Homo sapiens: one gene and its partners. The protein of the gene in region 3 purifies or fractionates together with the protein of the main gene of each other region. This does not show direct contact. Each region holds a gene or a part of one and is shown on either strand. Other genes may lie near its edges.

Region 1 (7,528 bases), on a different chromosome or scaffold from region 3:
ACGGTGGCGGGTGCCTGTAGTCCCAGCTACTTGGGAGGCTGAGGCAGGAGAATGGCATGAACCCGGGAGGCGGAACTTGCAGTGAGCTGAGATCATGCCACTGCACTCCAGCCTGGGCGAAAGAACGAGACTCCATCTCAAAATAAAATATAAGATCCACATCTTGGTTGGGCGTGGTGGCTCACGCCTGTAATCCCAGCACTTTGGAAGGCCGAGACGGGCAGATCACGAGGTCAGGAGTTTGAGACCAGCCTGACCAACATGGTGAAACCCCATCTCTACTAAAAACACAAAAATTAGCCGGGCGTGATGGCGGGTGCCTGTTGTCCCAGCTACTCAGGAGGCTGAGGCAGGAAAATTGCTTGAGCCCGGGACACAGAGGTTGCAGTGAGCCAAGATCACACTACTGCACTCCAGCCTGGGTGACAGAACAAAACGCCATCTCAAAAAAAAAGATAAGATCCACATCTAATTTTATTGACACAGAAAATGTCAAGAACCCCAAATTTGGTTGGTTTGAAGAACATGTGAAGGGTTTGACTAGATGATGAATGTCAATATTAAATCAGCTGAAGTTTCATATACAAAATGAAGAGGAACAGCATTCAAACTTAGTTAAGACACAATTTCCTTGAGTGGCCAGGCATGGTAGTCATGCCTGTAATCCCAGCACTTTGGGAGGCCAAGGTGAGCAGATCGCTTGAGCCCAGGAATTCAAGACCAGCCTGGGCAACATGGTGAAACCCCATCTCTATAAAAAATGGAAAAATTAGCTGGGCATGGTGGTATATGCCTATAGTCCCAGCTACTCGGGAGGCTGAAGTGGGAGGGTCGCTTGAGCCCAGGAGGTCAAGGCTGCAGTGAGCTGTGATCATGCCATTGTGTTCCAGCCTGGGTGACAGAGTGAAAATGTGCCTTGAAATAAAATTTTCCTTTGAATACGGCTTAAGAAATATGGCCACTTAAAACTCTACCTTGAAAATAAATATAGATTTTATCTTATCTAGAGGTAGAGTGGGAAGTTTTCATTTGGTACATTAAATCTATAAGGCCATAAACAGGTAATATAAAAAGCTTTCATAATTCAATTTATATATAACATGAGAAGGAACTTCCAGGTGTTACTATGAATCTTCTATGTATAGTTACAGTCAATATACTTTATATAAGAGATAATTTTAATACCAATATAATCTAGATAACATTTTACTTTGTTATGTTATCATTGTTCTCTTGGGGAATAAATTTTTTCCTCTGAGGCTCTGGATTTGACATTGAATTTTGTGTGTACTAATTGACATGTGCCAGGGCAATGATGGACTGGAATCCACCCCCAAATCAAAGCATCATGGTAAATCTTGCTTATCCTTATAAAGTCAAATGATAGACATTTCCCATCACCTATTTCTATTCAACAAGAGCACCAGATTCAGTTAGCTAATCTGCTTCCAAAGAGTAGAACTGCATTGAGCTCAAATAATTTCAAAATACTGACTTTTTTTTATTTATTTATTTATTTTTTAGATGTGGTCTTGCTATGTTGCCCGGGCTGGTCTCTAACTCCTGGGCTCACACGATCCACCCACCTCGGCCTCCCAGCATGCTGGGATTACAGGCGTGAACCACCATACCCAGCCTATTTCTGCGTATGTTAAACATGCTTTACAATTTTAAAAATGAACTGTTTTGAAGGTAAAATTACAAATCTTGAAATTAAAAAAGCAAATATGTAAAGGAGCAAAAACTATAAATCAAACATTTGAGAAGAGAAAATTGGAGGCTAACTTGTATTAAATTCACAAAAACTTCTATACTTTCTGTAAATACTTTTTTAAAAAACTATAGATCAGAGGCTAGGCGCAGTGGTTCACGCCTGTAATCCTAGCACTTTGGGAGGCCGAGGCGAGTGGATCACTGAGGTCAGGCGTTCGAGACCAGCCTGACCAACATGGAGAAACCCCATCTCTACTGAAAATACAAAATTAACTGGGCGTGGTGACGCATGCCTGTAATCCCAGCTACTCGGGAGGCTGAGGCAGGAGAATCGCTTGAACCAGGGAGGCAGAGGTTGTGGTGAGCCGAGATTGCGCCATTGCACTCCAGCCTGAGCAAAAAGAGCAAAACTCAGTCTCACAACAAACAAAAAAACTATAGATCAGAATAACCACCTTTAGAACACTTTCGGTTATCAGTCAATATTTTTAGATAGAAGCTGGTAGTAAGCCTAAAGTGGGCTTAATTCTGCAGTAAACAACTGCCTCAACACATAGAAATCTTTTTTAAAATAGGCACTCTTGGCCGGGCGCGGTGGCTCATGCCTGTAATCCCAGCACTTTGGGAGGCCGAGGCGGGCGGATCACGAGGTCAGGAGATCGAGACCATCCTGGCTAACACGGTGAAACCCTGACTCTACTAAAAATACCAAAAATTAGCCGAGCGTGGTGGCGGGTGCGTGTAGTCCTAGCTACTCGGGAGGCTGAGGCAGGAGAATGGCGTGAACCCGGAAGCTGGAGGTTGCAGTGAGCCGAAATCGTGCCACTGCACTCCAGCCTGGGTGACATAGCAAGACTCCATCTCAAAAAAAAAAATAAAAAATAAATAAAATAAAATAAAATAGGCACTCTTGCGGGAGGTGGCAGCTCATGCCTATAATTGCAGAACTTTGGGAGGCCGAAGTGGGCAGATTGCTTGAGCCCAGGAGTTTGAGACCAGCCTGGGCAACATGCCGAAACCCCATCTCTACTAAAAACACAAAAAGTTAGCCGGGCGTGGTGGCACACACCTGTGGTCCCAGCTACTGGGGAGGCTGAGGTGGGAGAATCACCCAAGCCCAGAAGGTAGAGGCTGCAGTGAGCTGTGATCATGCCACTGCACTCCAGCCTGGGTGACAGAGTGAGACCCTGTCTCAAAATAATAATAATAATAATAATAATAATAGGCCCTCCTTGAAGTTTTTTGTTTGCACAGTCACACAGTGATGCTTAGATGTTCCAGTATCTAATATAGCCACAGTAGGCTGCAAGCAGTGGCTCATACCTGTAATCCCAACACTTTAGGAGGCTGAGGCAGGAGGATCACTTGAACCTAGGAGTTTGAGACCAGCCTGGCCAACATGGCAAAACCCCATGTCTAAGAAAATATATATTTTTAACTTTTTTAACAATATCAAAAATAAGAATCACATAAATAAACAGATTCTTCAAATTCTGAAAAGAGCCACAAAGCTTTATAAATTGTACAGGGGCATGAACTCGTAAGGTATTATAATTGCCTGGCACATAGTAGGCTCTCAATACATTTGCAAACTCCACACACACCTTACTTTCTTTTGCTTTATTTTTCTCTATTTATCTGCATTAACATGCTATGTAACACATAACTATACATTAACGTTTTACAAATTACAAATTTTTCTTGTTTTTTTTTTTTTTTTTTTTGAGACAGAGTCTCACTCTGTCGCCCAGGCTGGAGTGCAGTGGGCTCACTGCAACCTCCGCCTCCCAGGTTCAAGCCAGTCTCCTGCCTCAGCCTCCCAAGTAGCTGGGATTGTAGGCGCCCGCCACCACGCCCGGCTAATTTTTTATATTTTTAGTACAGACGGGGTTTCACCGTGTTAGCCAGGATGGTCTCGATCTCCTGACCTCGCAATCTGCCCACCTCGGCCTCCCAAAGTGCTGGGATTACAGGCGTGAGCCACCGCGCCTGGCCTTTTTTTTTTTTTTTTTTTTTTTTTTTTTCAGACGGAGTTTCGCTCTTGTTGCCCAGGCTGGAGTGCAATGGCTCAGTCTTGGCTCACTGCAACCTCCGCCTCCCGGGTTCAGGCGATTCTCCTGCCTCAGCCTCCCGAGTAGCTGGGATTACAGGTGCGTGCCACCACGCCCGGCTAATTGTTTGTATTTTTAGTGCAGACGGGGTTTCACCATATTGGTCAGGCTGGTCTCGAACTCGTGACGTCAGGTGATCCACCCGCCTCGGCCTCCTAGAGTGCTGGGATTACAGGCGTGAGCCACTGCGCCCAGCCCATTTTACAGACTTTTATTTTGTTCAGTTTCTTTATTGTCTTCCCAACGTCCCCCCACACACACTGCACTAAAATGCAAACTTCACGAAGGCAAGGAGGAACTTTTGCCTGTATTGTTCACCTCAGTGTCCCCAGAGCCTAGGTCAGTTGTTGGCATATTGAGGGACATTCAATAAATATTTAAGGAGTGAATAAACAATTGGATACCCAATAAATGCATGTATGAATAAACACATTCTTAGTTATTCGGAATATGAGGATTTGCGGAGAGTGGACAGCAGGGGATTGAGGAGACCGGCTGGGACTGGGAAATGGGCATTCGGGTCGCATGCCCACCGCAGTGGCCCAGAGCCCCTGTCCGGACCGCTAACAAGTTGCTTAGCAACCCGCCGCCCGGCCCTCGGCCACCGCTAGAGGGCGAGCGGGCGGGGAGACGTGCACGCGCGCGCGCGTGCGTGCAAGCGTGTGTGCGCGCGTGCGCGGCGCGGGCTTGGGAGGGAGCACGTCACTTCCTGTTGCCTTAGGGGAACGTGGCTTTCCCTGCAGAGCCGGTGTCTCCGCCTGCGTCCCTGCTGCAGCAACCGGAGCTGGAGTCGGATCCCGAACGCACCCTCGCCATGGACTCGGCCCTCAGCGATCCGCATAACGGCAGTGCCGAGGCAGGCGGCCCCACCAACAGCACTACGCGGCCGCCTTCCACGCCCGAGGGCATCGCGCTGGCCTACGGCAGCCTCCTGCTCATGGCGCTGCTGCCCATCTTCTTCGGCGCCCTGCGCTCCGTACGCTGCGCCCGCGGCAAGGTAGGGTCAGCGGGAAAACCGGGCACTTTCCACCCCCATACCGAACACGGCCGACATGGACCCTTCCTAGGCGGGACAGACACCTCTCCCCGGACACTGACTCTTCCCAGCCCTGATCACCACCGTTCCCTCTGTCTCGGGCCCACATTCCGGGGCTGGCATTTCCTACCCCGGGATCTGGGCACCGACCCCCGACCAGGGTATGATACCTTCCCCAATAGGAACTTGCTTCTGCTCCCGACCCGGACCCTGACACTTCCCTCCCTGTGCATCATGCCGCGGCTGGGAACGCTGTCAGCCCGTCCCCCACTGCGACTCGGGCACTGATTGTTCTGAGCCTGTTGGGCCCAGGCAGATCAGCCCCATCATGTATACCTGATGGATACTGGTCCTCACAACTTACTGAATGGTACAATTTCGTGTCATTCCCTGTTAGGAACCCTGCCTCAGCCCACCGCAGGGCCCTTTCTACCATCCAGACCCATCCCTAGACTCTGACTCCTGTCTCACTGGAATCTATGGCACCTTATGTGCTCACCTAGATCCCCCACACCTGGCCCTTGCCCCTGCCTCAAAAACAATGATCTCTTAGAGCCCAGTTTTTCACATCACTTTCTGGAACCATCCCAGTCAGCTGGCTCCTCAGAAGCTGGCATCTTGGTGCCTCTACTTTCCAACTAGGCATGGACGTCTTATTTTCCTGGTTTCCTCTCTTAACTACCATCCAACCTTGGACATGGCCTAGTCAAAACCTAGACCTTGTTCCTAACCTGTAACCCTTTTCCCACCCAGCCTTTGACCCTATCTCAAAGTAGCCCTTCTCCCCATACCCCCAAGACAATCCCCCCACCAAACTGGGCCTGTCTGCTGGGCCACTGTTGGCCCCTCTTGTGAGACTGGGCCAGACTCCATCCCTGGCCTTCCTCAACATCTGTCCTATTGGATAACTAGGAGGACTCCAGCACATTTCACCTTCTGCTTCTCCCTCCCCCTTCCCTGCCCCACTTCTTCCCTATATTAAGCCCTTTCTAGCCCGTTGTACCAATGACTTTTCACTTCCTGGCACCCTCTCCCTTCCTCCACAACCTCTTAATCTGCACCTTCCCGATGCTCCTCCCCCACCCAGACCTGAGGATGGACCTAAGTGGAAGTCTTGCCCAAAGAGGGCAGGCCCACAAAGCAGCTGCCACTTTTGAAACTGCTGAAGCTGAGGTTCTCAAAACACTACCCAACTTGAGCAGTAGCTGAGGCCTGCCATCTTCCTTCCCCAGGAGCAGAGAACTCACTACTGGCTCTGTATGCGATCAGATGCAAAGGAAAGTAGTTAGGCGGGGCTTAGGCTGAGAGACTCAAACATGACTCCATTTTCCTTTTTATTTGGCTTTTTCTAAGCTGAGTTCAGGTGATATTAAGCCTCTCTACTATGCCTGTCAGGTAGACACTTAGTGTAGAGAGCAGTTCTGAGATAACCCAGGACAGAGGAGGCGAAGGACAGCTGGCATAAGGCTAGGCAGCTTGATCTGAGCTGCTCTCCAAACTGAGTAATTCTCCCTGGCACCTTCTGTACATGGATCACTAATCTCTGCAGAAAACACCTTCCAGGCAACAGTATTTCCTGAACTTCCACCACTGTCAGGGGTAAGGGAGGATTGCTGCAAAGATGAGTAGGTCAGAGCCCTGTCACCAAGGAATTCGGGAGCGTAGGTGAAAGAATAATAACTAGATTGTGATTATACTACAAGCAATGCTACAAGGTTTAGGGAGAAAGATTGAGCACATCTGGGACAATGCAGGGAGGCTTTGTGCTAGAGGTAGGCCTGAGCCTTGACGTAGAGGTAGAATTTCAGCCAGGAGAAGGCATTCTAAGCAAAAGAAACCAGGTAAGCAGAGAGAGGTACGGAGGCAGGAGGCTACGAGGCAGTTCAGGAAATAGTGGAAGGTTTGGTGTGGCTGGAACAGAGGGTATGGATAGGAGAAAGCCTTAGCCTCTGAATACCTCTCCCAAGCATCTCCTGCAGGGCAGCAGGGTGTGGAGGACTGTATGAATTTACAAACAGGACCTGACCATTAAGAGCCTGCCACCACCAATGACCCAGATGCGGTAAAGCTTGCAAAACCTTGACGCCCTTTGATGCTCACAGCAACTGAGGTGGCAGGCAGAGCCAGTTTCATTATCCTCATTGTACAGGAAAAGAAACTGAGAGTCAAAGAAATGACTTCTGAAGATCACTCTGCCATTTAGGGGCAGAATCAGGTATGCCTAGTCCTCATCCAGGGCTCTCTCCTAACACAGGTACCTTTAAAGACAAGCAGCATTGACCTAGGGAAAGGACAGGGCAAATGACTCCCCTTCTACCCTGAGTCGTTTCCCTGGTCATGTGAAAAGGAGAGAGAAGAGTTAGTGTGGGGACCCAGTTTTGATTTCCCACCAGTGTTGGACCCCAAAACCAGTTGGGAGAGAGGGAATGTGAGGACAGAATCCCCAAGGGTCAAGGTGTCCATAACAGGCAGGGAAAATTGTGAAATCATGGAGAGAAAGAAGGTAGAGCCTCCAGGAGTATGTTGTGAAGAAGTAGCCTTGGGAGGAGCAGTCTCAGAGCAGCACCCATCACTGTCAGAGTCCTATATCCCAGACAGAAGCGAATATGACCCAGGCAGTAGCTGCACATTAAACATTGGTTTAAAGGGCCCTCAGCGAACAGGACTG
Region 2 (7,805 bases), on a different chromosome or scaffold from region 3:
CACAGGGTGCTGATTGGTGTGTTTACAAACCTTGAGCTAGATACAGAGTGCCGATTGGTGTATTTACAATCCCTGAGCTAGACATAAAAGTTCTCCAAGGCCCCACCAGAGCAGCTAGATACAGAGTGTGGATTGGTGCACTCACAAACCTTGAGCTAAACACAGGGTGCTGATTGGTGTGTTTACAAACCTTGAGCTAGATACAGAGTGCCGACTGGTGTATTTACAATCCCTGAGCTAGACATAAAGGTTCTCCAAGGCCCCACCAGAGTAGCTAGATACAGAGTGTGGATTGGTGCACTCACAAACCTTGAGCTAAACACAGGGTGCTGATTGGTGTGAGCCCAGCTGCCTTCACCTAGTGGATCCCGCACCGGGGCTGCAGGTGGAGCTGCCTGCCAGTCCTGCGCCGTGCGCTCGCATTCCTCAGCCCTTGGGTGGTCGATGGGACTGGGCGCCGTGGAGCAGGAGGTGGTGCTCGTCGGGGAGGCTCCGGCCGCACAGGAACCAATGGAGTGGGTGGGAGGCTCAGGCATGGGGGCTGCAGGTCCCGGAGCCCTGCCCCGCGGGAAGGCAGCTAAGGCCCGGCGAGAAATCGAGCACAGCGCCGGTGGGCCGGCACTGCTGGGGGACCCAGTACACCTCCGCAGCCACTGGCCCGGGTGCTAAGTCCCTCATTGCCCGGGGCCAGCAGGGCTGGCTGGCTACTCCAAGTGCGGGGCCCGCCAAGCCCACGCCCACCCGGAACTCCAGCTGGCCCGCAAGAGCCGCACGCAGCCCCGGTTCCCGCTCTCGCCTCTCCCTGCACACCTCCCTGCAAGCTGAGGGAGTGGGCTCCAGCCTTGGCCAGCCCAGAAAGGGGCTCCCACAGTGCAGTGGGGGGCTGAAGGGCTCCTCAAATGCCACCAAAGTGGGAGCCCAGGCAGGGGAGGCGCCGAGAGCAAGCCAGGGCTCTGAGGACTGCCAGCACGTTGTAACCTCTCAGTATGACTTAAATTGTGTGGGTATTTCAAATAATTGAAAGTTTTTGGACAAAAGAATATGTAATGTCTAAAGCACTGTTTTTAGAAAATTATTTTGGTAGTTGTTTAGAAGGAATTAATGCACAAAACCATCATAATGATTCAAGTTTGAAATGAAAAAATAATTCATAAGGTTTAGAAACTGATGAATTTATTTAGAAATACCCGGTTTGGGCCGGGCGCGGTGGCTCACGCTTGTAATCCCAGCATTTTGGGAGGGCAAGGTGGGCGGATCACGAGGTCAGGAGTTCGAGACCAGCCTGACCAACATGGCGAAACCCCGTCTCTGCTAAAAATACAAAAAAATTGGCCAGGCCTGGTGGCACATGCCTGTAGTCCCAGCTACTCGGGAGGCTGAGGCAGAAGACTCGCTTGAACCCGGGAGGCAGAGGTTACGGTGAGCCGAGATCATGCCACTGCACTCCAGCCTGGGCGACAGAGTGAGACTCGTCTCAAAAAAAAAAAAAAAAAAAAAAAGAAATACCCGGTTTGGGCCGGGCGCGGTGGCTCACGCCTATAATCCCAGCACTTCCGGAGGCCGAGGCTGGTGGATCACCTGAGGTCAGGAGTTCAAGACCAGCCTGGCCAACATGGTTAAAATCTGTCTCTACTAAAAAATACAAAAATTAGCCAGGTGTGGTGGCAGGTGCCTTAATCCCAGCTATTTGGGAGGCAGAGGCAGGAGAATCGTTTGAATCCGGGAGGCAGAGGTTGCAGTGAGTCGAGATTGAGCCATTGCACTCAAGCCTGGGGGACAAGAGCGAGACTTCTCTTAAAAAAAAAAAAGGAAACAAAAAAAAAAGAAATACCTGGTTTGAGGCCGGGCGCGGTGGCTCACGCCTGTAATCCTAGCACTCTGGGAAGCTGAGGTGGGTGGATCACCTGAGGTCAGGAGTTCGAGACCAGCCTGGCCAACGTGGTGAAACCCCGTCTCTACTAAAAATACAAAAATTAGCTGGGTGTGGTGGCATGCGCCTGTAATCCCAGCTATTCGGGAGACTGGGGCAGGAGAATTGCTTGAACTTGGGAGGCGGAGAGCTGAGACTGTGCCACTGCACTCCAGCCTGCGGAGAGCTGAGACTGTGCCACTGCACTCCAGCCTGGGCAACAGAGTGAGACTCCATCTCAAAAAAAAAATTTTTTTTTAAATTCCCGGTTTGAAATTGAAAATCAGAAATAAAATTAGGTCAGGCCCATTTATTTATTTATCTATTTATTTATTTATTTCCTGAGATGGAGTCTCGCTCTGTTGCCCAGGCTGGAGTGCAGTGGTGCCATCTCGGCTCATTGCAACCTCCACCTCCCGGGTTCAAGCAATTCTCTTGCCTCAGCCTCCCGAGCAGCTGGGATTACAGGCATGTGTCACCACGCCTGGCTAATTTTTGTACTTTTAGTAGAGATGGGATTTCACCATGTTGGCCAGGCGGTCTCAAACTCCTGACCTCGTGATCTGCCCGCCTCGGCCTCCCAAAGTGATGGGATTACAGGTGTGAGCCAACACGCCCAGCCATTCAGGCCTAGTTATTTAGATTTGGGTGTTGCTTATTGAATCTTTGAATATGGAGGAAAAGTTATGAGATAAAAAGAATAAAAATAGAGACTATTCAAAGGCTATGCATGGGACTGGGCACTGTGGCTCATGCCTGTAATACCAGCACTTTGGGAGGCCAAGGTGGGTGGATCAGCAGGTCAAGAGATCAAGACCATCCTGGCCAACATGGTGAAACCCCATCTCTACTAAAAATACAAAAATTAGCTGGGCGTGGTGGTGCACATCTGTAGTCCCAGCTACTCGGGAGGCTGAAGCAGGAGAATCGCTTGAACCTGGGAGGCAGAGGTTGCAGTGAGCCAAGATTGCACCACTGCACTCCAGCATGGCGACAGCGAGACTCCATCTAAGAAAAAAAAAACAAAACTAAACCAAAGGCTATGCATGAGACAAAGTGAACAGTTTATTACTGTGATTATAATAAAATGTTGAATTTATATAGGGTAAAATCTTGATAGAATGCTTGAATTATATAGGTATTATGGGAAATACAATGTTATGGTTAATTGAAGAATAATACAAAATTTTGTTTTAACTTTTGCTCGCTGGGTTTTTTTCCCCCCCCAAAAATTATACTTTTTTTCCTCTTGATAATTAGGAAACACAGATAAATTATTTTTAGATGATTCAAGATGCCACTATCCTTCAAGTTGATTATTGTAAAATACGTGTTTTCAATGTAAAATAACACAGTTATGGAGTTTGGGATATAGCCATGGTAACGACAGAACATACCCTGGTGTTTTAAGATTAGGGAAAGTCGGATAACATCAAAACAATTCTAAGAAAAAATTTTAAGTATTTTTCAGGCTCTATTAATTAAGAAGTACTTCAGTGCTTTTTTTTCTTTTTTTTTTCCAACACTACAAAGGCTAAAGATGTTATTATCAAATGTATTACTACATCATTGGCACAGTTTCTATTGGTATCTACTTGCTTTTTAATACGGAAGATGTTTATGATTTACACTCCTCCTACTTTAGAAATTCTCTCCATTCACTTCTTTTGTGCCCCTCCAGATATAATCTGAACTTCCAGGAATAGATCATTCTTGGTGTTACAAATGTTGGCTTCCCCCCTCCCTGGAATTCTATTAGAATGTTTCTGTCACTTTAGAAGCTTTCTTATTCTGGTGTAACATGCCAAGAAACCCAGGTATAAAATAGTGATTGTTGAATCTTACTTTGACACGTGTGCCCGTCCTTATAAATCTAGACCCTGTACATTACATGCATACAACTATCCCTATGGATCTACTAGTAAATAATCTCACAGACTCCACCTGAGGCTTCTGGAAAAAAAAACAATTACCTTAAATTTTATTAAGAGCTCTTCGTAACCTACTGAGCAAGATCAGTGAATCCTAAAAAGATTCAGTCCCCGGTTCCCAAAGCGCTTCCCCGCCCCGTGTTTCTGAACAGCTGGAGAGGACAAACCTCCGCTAAGAAGCGGAGGCCGCCAGTGCTCATCACACGCAGGAATTAGGATATCTGGCTTGAGAACACCTATGCTGTACCACATTCTTCTCTCCCCCTACCCCGCCTGAAATAAAACATAGTGAAGCGTAAATCTTGAGTCCCTTGGTACCTTCTCAGAAACGGCGGCGAGGAGGCTTCAGAGGGGCTTCCTGGGCGGGGATCCAGACGGTCGCGCGGGTATTCAGCACTCTGGGCGGGACAGTCCCTGTCCCGAAGGGAGGGCCCAGGAGGGGTGGAGCCGTCCCCGCCCGAACACGGGGGCATCCGCGCTCCCCGTAGGGTACCCCGCGTGCTGGCTCCGAAGCGGTGGCCGTCGGGGTGGCGCTCTTCCTCCGCTCTTTGGGGTCCCGGCGCCCCTCAGGGCAGGGCGGGAGACCGCTGAGGAGGCACCCTCAAGTTCACCTCAGGCTCATGACACCAGCCCCGCCGCGGTTCCCCCTGACCGGCTTTCCGCTGGCCCTGGCGGCTGCGGAACGGTCAACTAGACCCCACTAGCTGAAGCCGGCATCACCTGGGAAGCAGCCATGCCGCCCGGAGGCCACACCCGGGGGAGGAGCCTGCGGACGCCCAGTCGGGTGGAGCACGCCAGGTGAGCACGCCTGCGCAGTCGGGCCGTAAACAAGCCCACCCCTTCCCTTTGGCCCGCCCTCGCAGGGCTGGCCCGCGGGTGGGAGGGGCGAGAAGGAAGAGGCAGGGGGTGGGGGAAGAGGGAGCACCAGGAACAGCGCCTGCGCGGTGGGCGTGATCCGGGCACTTAGGGCAGGATGAACGCTGCTTTCCAAGATGGCGACGGAGGGAGGAGGGAAGGAGATGAACGAGATTAAGACCCAATTCACCACCCGGGAAGGTCTGTACAAGCTGCTGCCGCACTCGGAGTACAGCCGGCCCAACCGGGTGCCCTTCAACTCGCAGGGATCCAACCCTGTCCGCGTCTCCTTCGTAAACCTCAACGACCAGTCTGGCAACGGCGACCGCCTCTGCTTCAATGTGGGCCGGGAGCTGTACTTCTATATCTACAAGGGGGTCCGCAAGGTACCGACCCGGGCGTCACCGGAGCCAGCCAGCGGCGTAGGCAGAGGCCGGGAGCAGGGCGGTGACAGTGGGGCCAGGGTGACCGAGAGGGGTGGCCGTCGCTCTTACTTTTGAGTGGGCCGGTAACTCCACTGGGGTACTCCTGAGGAGAGGGGATTCAGGAGTAAGGAGGGTGGTGGCGGTGGCGTTTCGAAGGGGTGGGGGCAGTGGAAAGGGACCGTGGGGCGCGGGGGTTCTGGCTGGGAGGCTCCCGGGGGAGCCGGCTGCGTCCCCTCCAGCCTGGTCCATCAGGCTCTGACATGGCCAGGGAGCGGGCCTGCGAGTCCCCGGAAGAGGTGAGGTGGCCGTCTTGTCTGCTTCGATTGCCTCGCCTCCCTGGAGGGTTGGAAGTCTCGCCCTGGGTTAGAGAACAGGGACGCAAGACGGCTTAACAAGATCTCTGTAAGGCGGAACCGGGGCCGGGAAGCGGAGCATTGAGACTAGGTCAGAAAGAACCTGCTCGGCACGCAGGGCTACTCCACCTGCTGCCGCACTGACACTTCCTAGGAGCCTCTCCTGGTGTTAACATTTCTATTTCCAAAAACATCCGCGGGAGGACGGCTGTCACTGTCTCCGCCGTGGGGACCTTCTGAAAGATTGTTAAGGAGAGTCATCTTGTCCCTTGTAGTATGCGAAGGGCTGAGTACTACAGTTGAAATGATGTTTCCAGTGAACTAAGCTGGTTCAGAGGGGTTGTGTGAGAGTGCCCAGATTAATCTTGTCCAACAAGTCAGACTGTGTCCCAAACAGGGAGTGATATGCTTTAAAAGCTGCTTTAAAGGGACCATCCTTCTTGGCGGGCGAGTTACCGGTAATTCTGTGAAACATGTAAGCATCCTTTAAAAGTATCTCTTTAAAAGCAGCCATTTATTAGAGTTTTTCTTTCATTGGCTATGTAACTATGTTTTCACTGAGAATTGCTTATTTTTGAGATTGTAGTCTTTGACTTGATGTCATGGAAGAGTGAGGAAATTAATGCATCCCACAGCACCTCCAAATAGGACAAGGTGATAAAAGATTAAGTCGTAAATGCATGTTAGCATGAAAATAAATTGTTCATATTGAAGAGTGAACATTCTTCAGGATTTAATATAGCCAGATCCAGTACAGGATTTTCGCTTGTTACAAGAGCTAGGGAAATGACAGTGGTATCTAAATGTAGCAAAGTTGTTTCTTTGATTCAGGGTGAATCTTTTTTTCTTAGTCTTTATGATAATAAGTGTACCACTGTATTTAGGGTATGCTGTTGGAAGTTATTAAGGGTAAATCGCTTGACCTTTTTTTTTTCCTCGTTTGGAATTGCAAAAGCTCGAAGTAGTCTTCAGTCTAGGGGCTGAAGTTTTACTCCTACTCCCAACTTTGTCACTGACTTGTTTGGGTGACCTTGGATAAGTTATTTAACTTCTATTTGCACCTCTTTAAAAAGGGAATGTTACAGTGCACGTTGTAATTAATAATATAATAATCATAATGAACTTTAAGGCCCTGAAACACTCAGTAGATGTAAAATATAGTTAAATACTGACTGTCAAATAAGAAGCTGCTGTCTTGACATTGATAATCAGAGTGAAAGGACCAATTTTGTCTCAGGAAATTAAGTTTAGAATTTTAAGTTATAAAAATTTATATTTATATAAAAATACGATGTGCTTAAAAACTAAATTCACTAACTAGCAATTATTAATGTAGGAATTACTTAAAAATTTTTTTTTCTTTGAAATGTTATGACTTCTGAAGCATCCTAATGGCAGACCTTATCTGGATCTGGTAGCCCTGTTTTACATCATAAAGACAGGTTTCTTGCCTGGAAGTATCATTACAATAGTGTTCTCTTTTAGTGGGACGCTATTCCCTGAAGGGTAAAAGGAGGCAAGGTTTTTAAAACCACACCAAAAAATTATTTTAAACAAGATAAATGTGAAATACGTAAATTGCCCTTACCTGCATAATTTGAGTGTTTTAACGCTTTTTGGGTAAAATTTCATTTTCATGTGGTAGTATCTTGTAGATACATTTGCATTGTGTTGCAGATGTTTCTACTCTCTTTTAATTGTAACTTAAACATTTTTTTCCATGAATGAGTTGGCATTTATTTGTTGTTATTTCTGAGTATAAGTGACTTTTTATGACTATTTTCTGATTTAAAATATAGGAAATACATTTTCCTTAATTGGAAAACCAAAATTTACTTTTTAGAGTTAGTAGTTACAAACATATTTTTGACAGTTGGCTATTAAACATGTTTTTGTTTTTGTTTTTAGAGACAGGATCTCATCCTGTTGCCTAGGCTGGAGTGCGGTGGCGTGCTCATCGTTCACTACAGCCTCAAACTCCTGGGCTCAAATGATCTTCCCACTTCAGCCTTCCTAGTGGCTGGAACTACAGGTGTGCACCACCCTGGCTAATTAAAAAAAAAAATGTTTTTTAGAGATGGAGGTCTTGCCGTGTTGCCCAGGCTGGTCTTGAACTCCTGGCCTCAAGCGATCCTCCCACCTCAGCCTGCTAAAGTGCTGAGATTATAGGTGTGACCCACCATGCCCAGCGCACAGTTGGCTGTTTTGACTTTTTTTTTTTTTTTTTTTTTTTGGTCCTTTGAGGCGTGTAAAATTTTACAATAATTATTTGGATTATTCAGAAGATCTAATTTAGATGAGTAAATTCAACTTAAGTCTGTGTGTAAAATGA
Region 3 (7,019 bases):
GCACTAAAACTGGGATATTTGTTTTTCCTTGATCGACCTTGTAAGCTACTTCATTATGAAATGTGTTTTTTCTTAAAGTATTTCTTAATTTAGTATTCTTTAAAATGAGATTTTTATTCAGTTGTCGACAGTCTTGAATCACAAAAGTTCACAGATTACTTTGAAATACTTGATTTTCATCAGTCTCTGTTTCTTACTATGGCTGTCGTGTGCTGTGTCCTGTGATAGGAAGTTTCACATCTCATATTGCAGTGACCACCCTTTGTGGTCAACTGTTTATATGATAAGAAGTGGGGGAGCCCAAGGTATATGACCTAAGGGGCAGAGCCAAGATTTGAGCCCAAGTCAGCATAGCTCAAACTCTGGGCTCATTGCCTTTTGCACCCTGACTGCAAGATGAAGCACTTTCTGCCCCATAGTTCTCTGGCCTCCCATCCTATTCTGCTCCATCCACACTGGCCTCCTTGCTGTACCCCCTGCCCCAGGCCCTTAGCACTAATGGTTCTCTCCCCTGGAATACTCTTCCCACAGGTATCTTCATAGTCCCTCGCCTCATTTCAGCTTTGCTCATAGTCCAACCACTCCTTTAAAACTATCCCCACTCCCACAGCATCCTTTCCTCCTCCCTGTCTTGCTTTTATTCGTAGCACCTCCTAGCCTACTATATTAATTAGTTGTTAAGTGTATTGCCCATCTCCCCCATGGAATGAATGCTCCAAAGGGCAGGGGTTCTGTGTATTTTGTTCACTCCCCCAACTCTGGTACTGTGAAAAAAGAATCAACAAATCACTATGGTATCCTTGAATCTTTCCAGCTTCCCACACTTTTTGTTTTTGTTAGTCCTTACTGTTCTCTGTAGTGAGCAATGAAACCTCTAAAATGCAAAAGCTTTATGTGTTGTTTGGGGGAACAGCAAGAAAGTAGAGAAGAATCGGGAAAGATCTGGCTTACTCTTGAGCCGGTGTTGGGAAGAGAGGAACCTGTAAAGATGGGGAAAAAGTCACCTGAGGGTTGGGATGTGTGACGAGGCAGCAAATGGTACGTGGGGAGATGGCCTGGGATGGAGAAGAGATCTGTGTGGGTTCCCTTGTAATGGGAATGCATAATGTTTTTGAAGAACTTCCAAAGGAGACTCTGGATTCCTTCAGCCATCCATCAACTCTCCCAGTGGCCTGAGTCACTAGAAAGGAAAAGGAGCCTACGGTCATTCCTACTGGCTTTTTACACAGACAGGTGAATCCTTGCACTGCCTGCATTATTAGCCTGTTGCATTTTTTAAACATTAAATACCTGTTGGTGTCATCCCTGTTTGAGCCAGGGTCTGAGAGTTCACTGCCAAAGCACTTACCCCATGTGTCTGAGAAGCATCACAGCCTGAGATGTCTTTGGTGTAAGCAGTCCCAGGAAGGACTCCACATATATCTTTCATTCATCTATTGTTTGCAGTAGTTCTTGGGCCGTAGCAAAATCATAGGCACTTTGAGGACTGATTCATCTGCAGAACACTTTAGAATGGACTACACTGGGATGCTAAAGGGAGTTCATGGTTATGGAAAGAAGCCTGGGAGAAACTGCTCCTCAGCCACAAAGGCCTCCTCTCCTCCTCCCGGATGGCTTTAATTGCTGCCCTAGGCAGTCTGAATTACCCGCCAGGAGAGGATTTCCCCTTCAAAAAACACAGCCTCCCTAAAACTGCTTTTGATTTGTAATAGAAACTACTTAGTAGCTAGGACAGAGGCTGATAACTCCTATTCCCAGAACTCATTAAAACAAGGAATTTTAATAAGTATTTTTGCCCTTTGCAGCCCAGGTTTTTGGAAGTCCAGGCAGCTGTTCTCTAGATTTCACTGTCAAGCCGTAATGCATGCAATGCTTCAGCTTCTTTCCCTTGGCTCAAAACAGGTCTGAAGCAAGTTATTTTATCTACAATTCCCTCACACCATCCCACCCTGGTTACACAATTGCCATTTTCTCCAGCCAATACAATGCATAAGGCCAATTAACCTTCTGCCCATGACAGTTTCCTTTGAAATAGTCAAATCTTTGTACTTTACCTGAATTTGATGCAGGGCTTTTAAAAAACAATTTCTATGACAGTTACTAATTCTCCTTTAACCATGACTCCTAAAATTTGTTAGCTTTGCCCATCAAAACAAAAGAACAAGGTGAAATATATTGCAATTCCTCAACAAAGAAAAAGTTCCATTGTTTTGGGACACAGTCTCAAAAGAAAAGCTTGGAAATTTCTCTCCCATTTCTCCCTGTCTTTTAACTGTCAGTTTCTATGCAAGGCTCTATCACTGCCCTTCTTGATACCCTGCAAGGAGCTCCTGCCCCCACCCCTCTACTGAAACAGAACTCTTAAAGGTCACCGGTGATTGCCTAATATAAATCCAATGGCTGTTTCTCAGATTTCGTTCATGATGGCTCAGCAACATCTGACCCCATTGACTTCCTCTACTCTTTGAAATGCTGTCTGTCGGCAGCTCCTTCCTAGCGGTGTCCGTGTCTATCTGGTCTCTCCTCTGCTGTCATCCTTCCTGTTCTATCAAGAGGCAGTCTGAAGTGGTTAAGAGTGTGGGCTCTGCCTGTGATGTGAATCCTGGCTCTAGCACTTGCTAGAGTAGCTTTGAGTAAGTGATTTAACCCTCGTACCTCAGTGTCCTCATCGGTAAAATGGGGAGAAGAGTAGCTACGGCAGAGGATTAAATAGTATGCTTAGTAAAGGGTAAGCACCCAACAAATGCTATTTTTTTTTATCATATAACTTCCTGTGTACATGCCTGTAACTTTAGAATAAAACCCAAATGCCTCCCTCTAGCCATCAGGACCTCTAAGATCTGGCTCTCGTTTAGTTTGTTTATATCTCAGACCCTCCCCAGTGTGCGTCCACTTCTGAGGCTTTGTCCCGCGCACTCCCCACTCAACCACCCTCACCTCTTCCTATTCTGCCCCTCCTTCCCTGGCCAGAGGAGGGAAGAATGCCGAGGGGTGCCCCTGCCCAGGAGCCACCAAGCACAGCCTGCTTTGTAGCAGAAGACAGCCTCCCTTGGGCATGGAGCCTGTCTCTCTCAGACAGAGTATGAATTACTTAAGGGCACCAGCTGTGATTTATACTTTTAAAAAATATCTTCCTCAGCATTTAGCACTATAACTTTACACATAGTGGGAATTTAACTCATATCTTTTAACTGCCAAAACATTATGGTTTTACTTGGCCCTTCCAAAATCCTTTTTCCTCCTAAATTGAAACCTGTATTGATCAGTCCTGGAGCTCATGTAAGCTTGATACGGGATAATTAAGTCAACACCACAGGGAGAGTTACCCATGTCAGAACCTTCTTGGAACGAGGAGGGATATATAGAAATAATTAAAATAATGAGAGCACAGGGAATAATTTAATGCTTTTAAAAAGTAGCTTGAAATCCTACCAACCTATAAAGCTGTTAGAATTTTTAAGAAGTGTTTAGAAGTTTTTTCTATACTCTCTACTCTCAGAATAAAATGAGCTGTAAAGCTGTGAGTATCAAATCTATCAACCCTTCAGACCTTGCTATAGGCCTGCTCTGGAGCCACTGTGTTCTAGTCCTGCTTGCTTTCTCCTTCCTGCCCTGGTGAAGAGGGCATTGAAGTTGGATGAAAATCAAAGGAAGGGCTGCCTACTTAAAAAAAAAAAAAAAAATTAACCCCTTTATTGGCGTTGTGAGTTGGCCTGGCAAAGACAGCCTAAGTTTTCATCGGCATCTGCTGTGTGTGTCCCTGGGGTCATGAAGAGTGCCAGAGCTGTGCTGCCAGTATAACAGCTTCCCACCCCACAACCCTGGAAGCCACAAAGGACCATATGCTTTGCATCTTGACATTCTGTAGCAGAGTTTCTCAACTTCAACACTGTTGACACATGGGGCCAGGTGACTCTTTGTTGCAGGGGCAGTCCTGTGCATTGTAGGATATTTAGCAGCATCCGTGACCCTTACCCACTAGATGCCACCGGTACTACCGCGATTACCCCCCGTCCCCAGTGGTGACAACCAAAAATGTCTCCAGAAATTGCCAAATGTCCCCTAGGGTGCAAAGTCACCCCCATTTGAGAACCGTTCTCCATAGGATCAATACAGAAAACTCAGCATCTTTCTAGTTTGAAGAATACAGAACTTAGATAATTTGGGTCAAATGAAGATGAAGATTGGGTTATAATATACATGAAAGGTAAATTTGGGTTTGAAATTACACAGACAAGGAAAATTTAGACTCTATAAGCAGTTGTAGATTATATCATAAATAAGGAGATGTAAACAAATTACAGAAATGCAGACCATCTTCTTACTCCTGAAGGCCTCGGGTCTAGATGCAACAGCACATTCTGGGACTGTTAAAATCATCCTTGGGGCTGGGTGCGGTGGTTCACGCCTATAATCTCAGCACTTTGGGAGGCCAAGGAGGGCGGATCACCTAAGGTCAGGAGTTTGAGACCAGCCTGGCCAACATGGAGAAACCCCGTCTCTACTAAAAATACAAAAAATTAACTGGTGTGGTGGCACATGCCTGTACTCGGGAGGCTGAGGCAGGAGAATCACTTGAACCCTGGAGGCGGAGGTTGCAATGAGCCGAGATTGCGCCATTGCACTCCAGCCTGGGTGACAGAGCAAGGCTGCGTCTCAAAAAAAAAAAAAAAAAGAAAAGAAAAGAAAAGAAAAGAAAAAGTCATTCTTGGGTTTTTTTTTTTTTGGCATTGTATTTAAGAGCTTAAAGTATGCAATAACACATCCTGTGACTGTTAAAATCATCCTTGGGGTATTTTTTTGTGGGGGGCATTGTAATTTAAGTGCTCAAAGTACTTGTCGGCCTTTGACAATAAGTATATCAAACCAAAAATAATTAATATTTCTGGAGAAATCTGAAATATTTGATTATGACTGGAGGGAATTATATTTGACCTGCAAAGGGCCAGCTCTCCCCACCAGAGCCTGCTTCTGACCATAAAGCCACTCTAAGACAGCACTCGCAGGTGCTGCATAAAGTAGGACTGACAAGGTACTTTGTGCTTTGCTGAAAGGCCACAATTGCTCAGTAATCTTCATGGCTCTTAGAAAATTTAGCTGGAGACTTGTGATTTAAAACCCACCTCCAATTGACAGTCATCATTATGTTCTTTCTAAATGCAGTAGCAGAAATTGCATGCCATACCCAAAGGCTAAAAGTGACAGTTAAAATACATGCTTTCTGAAAAACTTTAAGGCCCCAACTTTGGGAGAGACCTGATTTGGCCAGAGATTACCTTTGGCTTGTTAATTGCCCTAGGGATGGGAAAGTGTTTACACAGATGATCTCCAAAATGTTCCCTACGAATAGTCTAGAAATAAGCCTTGTGTAGTTTCTCAAAAGGAGGCAAGGTAGAATTACTAATTCCATAGACTACTGTATCTTCAGTGTTCCAGACTTGTGCTAACAGGTGGAAGGAACTCCAAAGATCATATCCAATACAGTGGACTGAGTTGTTTCCCCTCCAAAAAATATATGTATATGTTGAAGCCCTAACCCCCAATGTGACTTATCAGGAGATAGGGTCTTTAGGAGATAATAAAGGATAAATGATGTCATAAGGGTCGGTCCCTAATCTGATAGTACTGTACCCTTATAAAAAGAGGAAGAAAGATACTATCTCTCTCTCCTGCTTCCATGTGAGGACACAGTGAGAAGGTGGCTGTCTGCAAGCCAGGAAGAGAGCCCTTACAGAACTTGACCATGCTGGCATCCTGATCCAGGACTTCCAGCCTTCCAGAACTGTAAGAAAATAACTTTCTGTTGTTTAAGCCACCCAATCTATGATATTCTGTTATGGCAGCCTGCACTAACTAATACATCCAGCATCCTTGTTGTACAGATGAAGAAACTGGATCCAGACAGGTAGACTTGCAAGAGGTCAAGCTACTAATGAGTGGCAGGGCTGGAACATAGTGCCTGTGCTTCGTGACTCCTAGCCCAGTGTACATTCTCCTTCCCACACTTTCTCCCGTCATATGGTCATCTTATTTATCATCTCTAGAACCTACAGCACATCACTTCTGTGAGCATCAGGGTCCTTATGCTTGCCCTGTTTATCTCAGGATTGTTGCAAGGATCAGTGACATAGCAGAAAAAAGATAGTTTAAGTTTTCAAACTACAAAATATTGTACGAACATGTCATACTGAACTCAGATTCGGCCTAGTTAGCAGGAATCTATCTGCCTCTGGAAATTGTAAGTCTAGTCAAGTAGGTAGCTCTGTGAGGTCACACTAGGCTAGGTCGACTCATGGGTGGGCTGGCTGTTGGCTTTAAGGAATAGATCAAAGGACAGAAAAAGCAGGAGGAGATAGGGCCTGGTTTGGTGATGAACCACCTCAAAGCGAGATGATTGCTCTTCTCTTTGGTTGAGTTGTAAAAGCTGAGGTTGATATGAGTTTGCATAGTAAGAGGAATGTTCCTCTTAAAGAGGATAGACTGTCAGAGCTGGAGGAGACCTTAAGAGCTCAAGGTACCAACCAGAGTCTCTGGTGTTAAGCAACAGAAACATACCCTGGTGGGCCGGGTGTGGTGGCTCACACCTGTAATCCCAGCATTTTGGGAGGCCAAGGCAGGTGGATCATCTGAGGTCAGGAGTTCGAGATCAGCCTGGTCAACATGGTGAAACCCCATCTCTACTAAATACAAAAAATTAGCGGGACATGGTGGTGCACGCCTGTAGTCACAGCTACTCGGGAGGCTGAGGCAGGAGAATTGCTTGAACCCGAGAGGTGGACTTTGCAGTGAGCCAAGATCATGCCACTGCACTCCAGCCTGGGCAGCCGAGTGAGGCTCTGTCTCAGAAAAGAAAAAAAAAAAAGAAACCTACCCTGAGAAACTTCAGCAGTAATGACAATTTATAAACTATAAGATATTGTACAACTGTAAATACCATTCTCAGCTCAACTTTTATTGAATGTATTGAATATTATACAACCTTTATTGCATTTATTGAATATTTATTGAATTTATTGAAT

Evidence for each region. Proteins that work in one complex are often made in the same cells at the same time.
Region 1: the proteins of TMEM266 (region 3) and HM13 purify together in Homo sapiens (affinity purification with mass spectrometry; 2 studies listed by BioGRID and IntAct, with this or other methods). This does not show direct contact.
Region 2: the proteins of TMEM266 (region 3) and WDR20 purify together in Homo sapiens (affinity purification with mass spectrometry; 2 studies listed by BioGRID and IntAct, with this or other methods). This does not show direct contact.

Annotation. Positions count from the first base shown.
Region 1 is NC_000020.11:31,509,914-31,517,441, forward strand, and holds the start of HM13 (signal peptide peptidase), read left to right. Parts: upstream 1-4,528; 5' UTR 4,529-4,638; coding exon 4,639-4,821; intron 4,822-7,528. UniProt on the Homo sapiens protein: Catalyzes intramembrane proteolysis of signal peptides that have been removed from precursors of secretory and membrane proteins, resulting in the release of the fragment from the ER membrane into the cytoplasm.
Region 2 is NC_000014.9:102,135,092-102,142,896, forward strand, and holds the start of WDR20 (WD repeat-containing protein 20), read left to right. Parts: upstream 1-4,805; 5' UTR 4,806-4,832; coding exon 4,833-5,081; coding exon of another isoform or gene 5,082-5,117; intron 5,118-7,805. Other genes in the region: HSP90AA1 (heat shock protein HSP 90-alpha), read right to left, coding at 4,159-4,313. UniProt on the Homo sapiens protein: Regulator of deubiquitinating complexes. Activates deubiquitinating activity of complexes containing USP12. Anchors at the base of the ubiquitin-contacting loop of USP12 and remotely modulates the catalytic center of the enzyme.
Region 3 is NC_000015.10:76,062,975-76,069,993, forward strand, and holds part of TMEM266 (transmembrane protein 266), read left to right. Parts: intron 1-7,019. UniProt on the Homo sapiens protein: Voltage-sensor protein present on the post-synaptic side of glutamatergic mossy fibers and granule cells in the cerebellum. Despite the presence of a voltage-sensor segment, does not form a functional ion channel and its precise role remains unclear.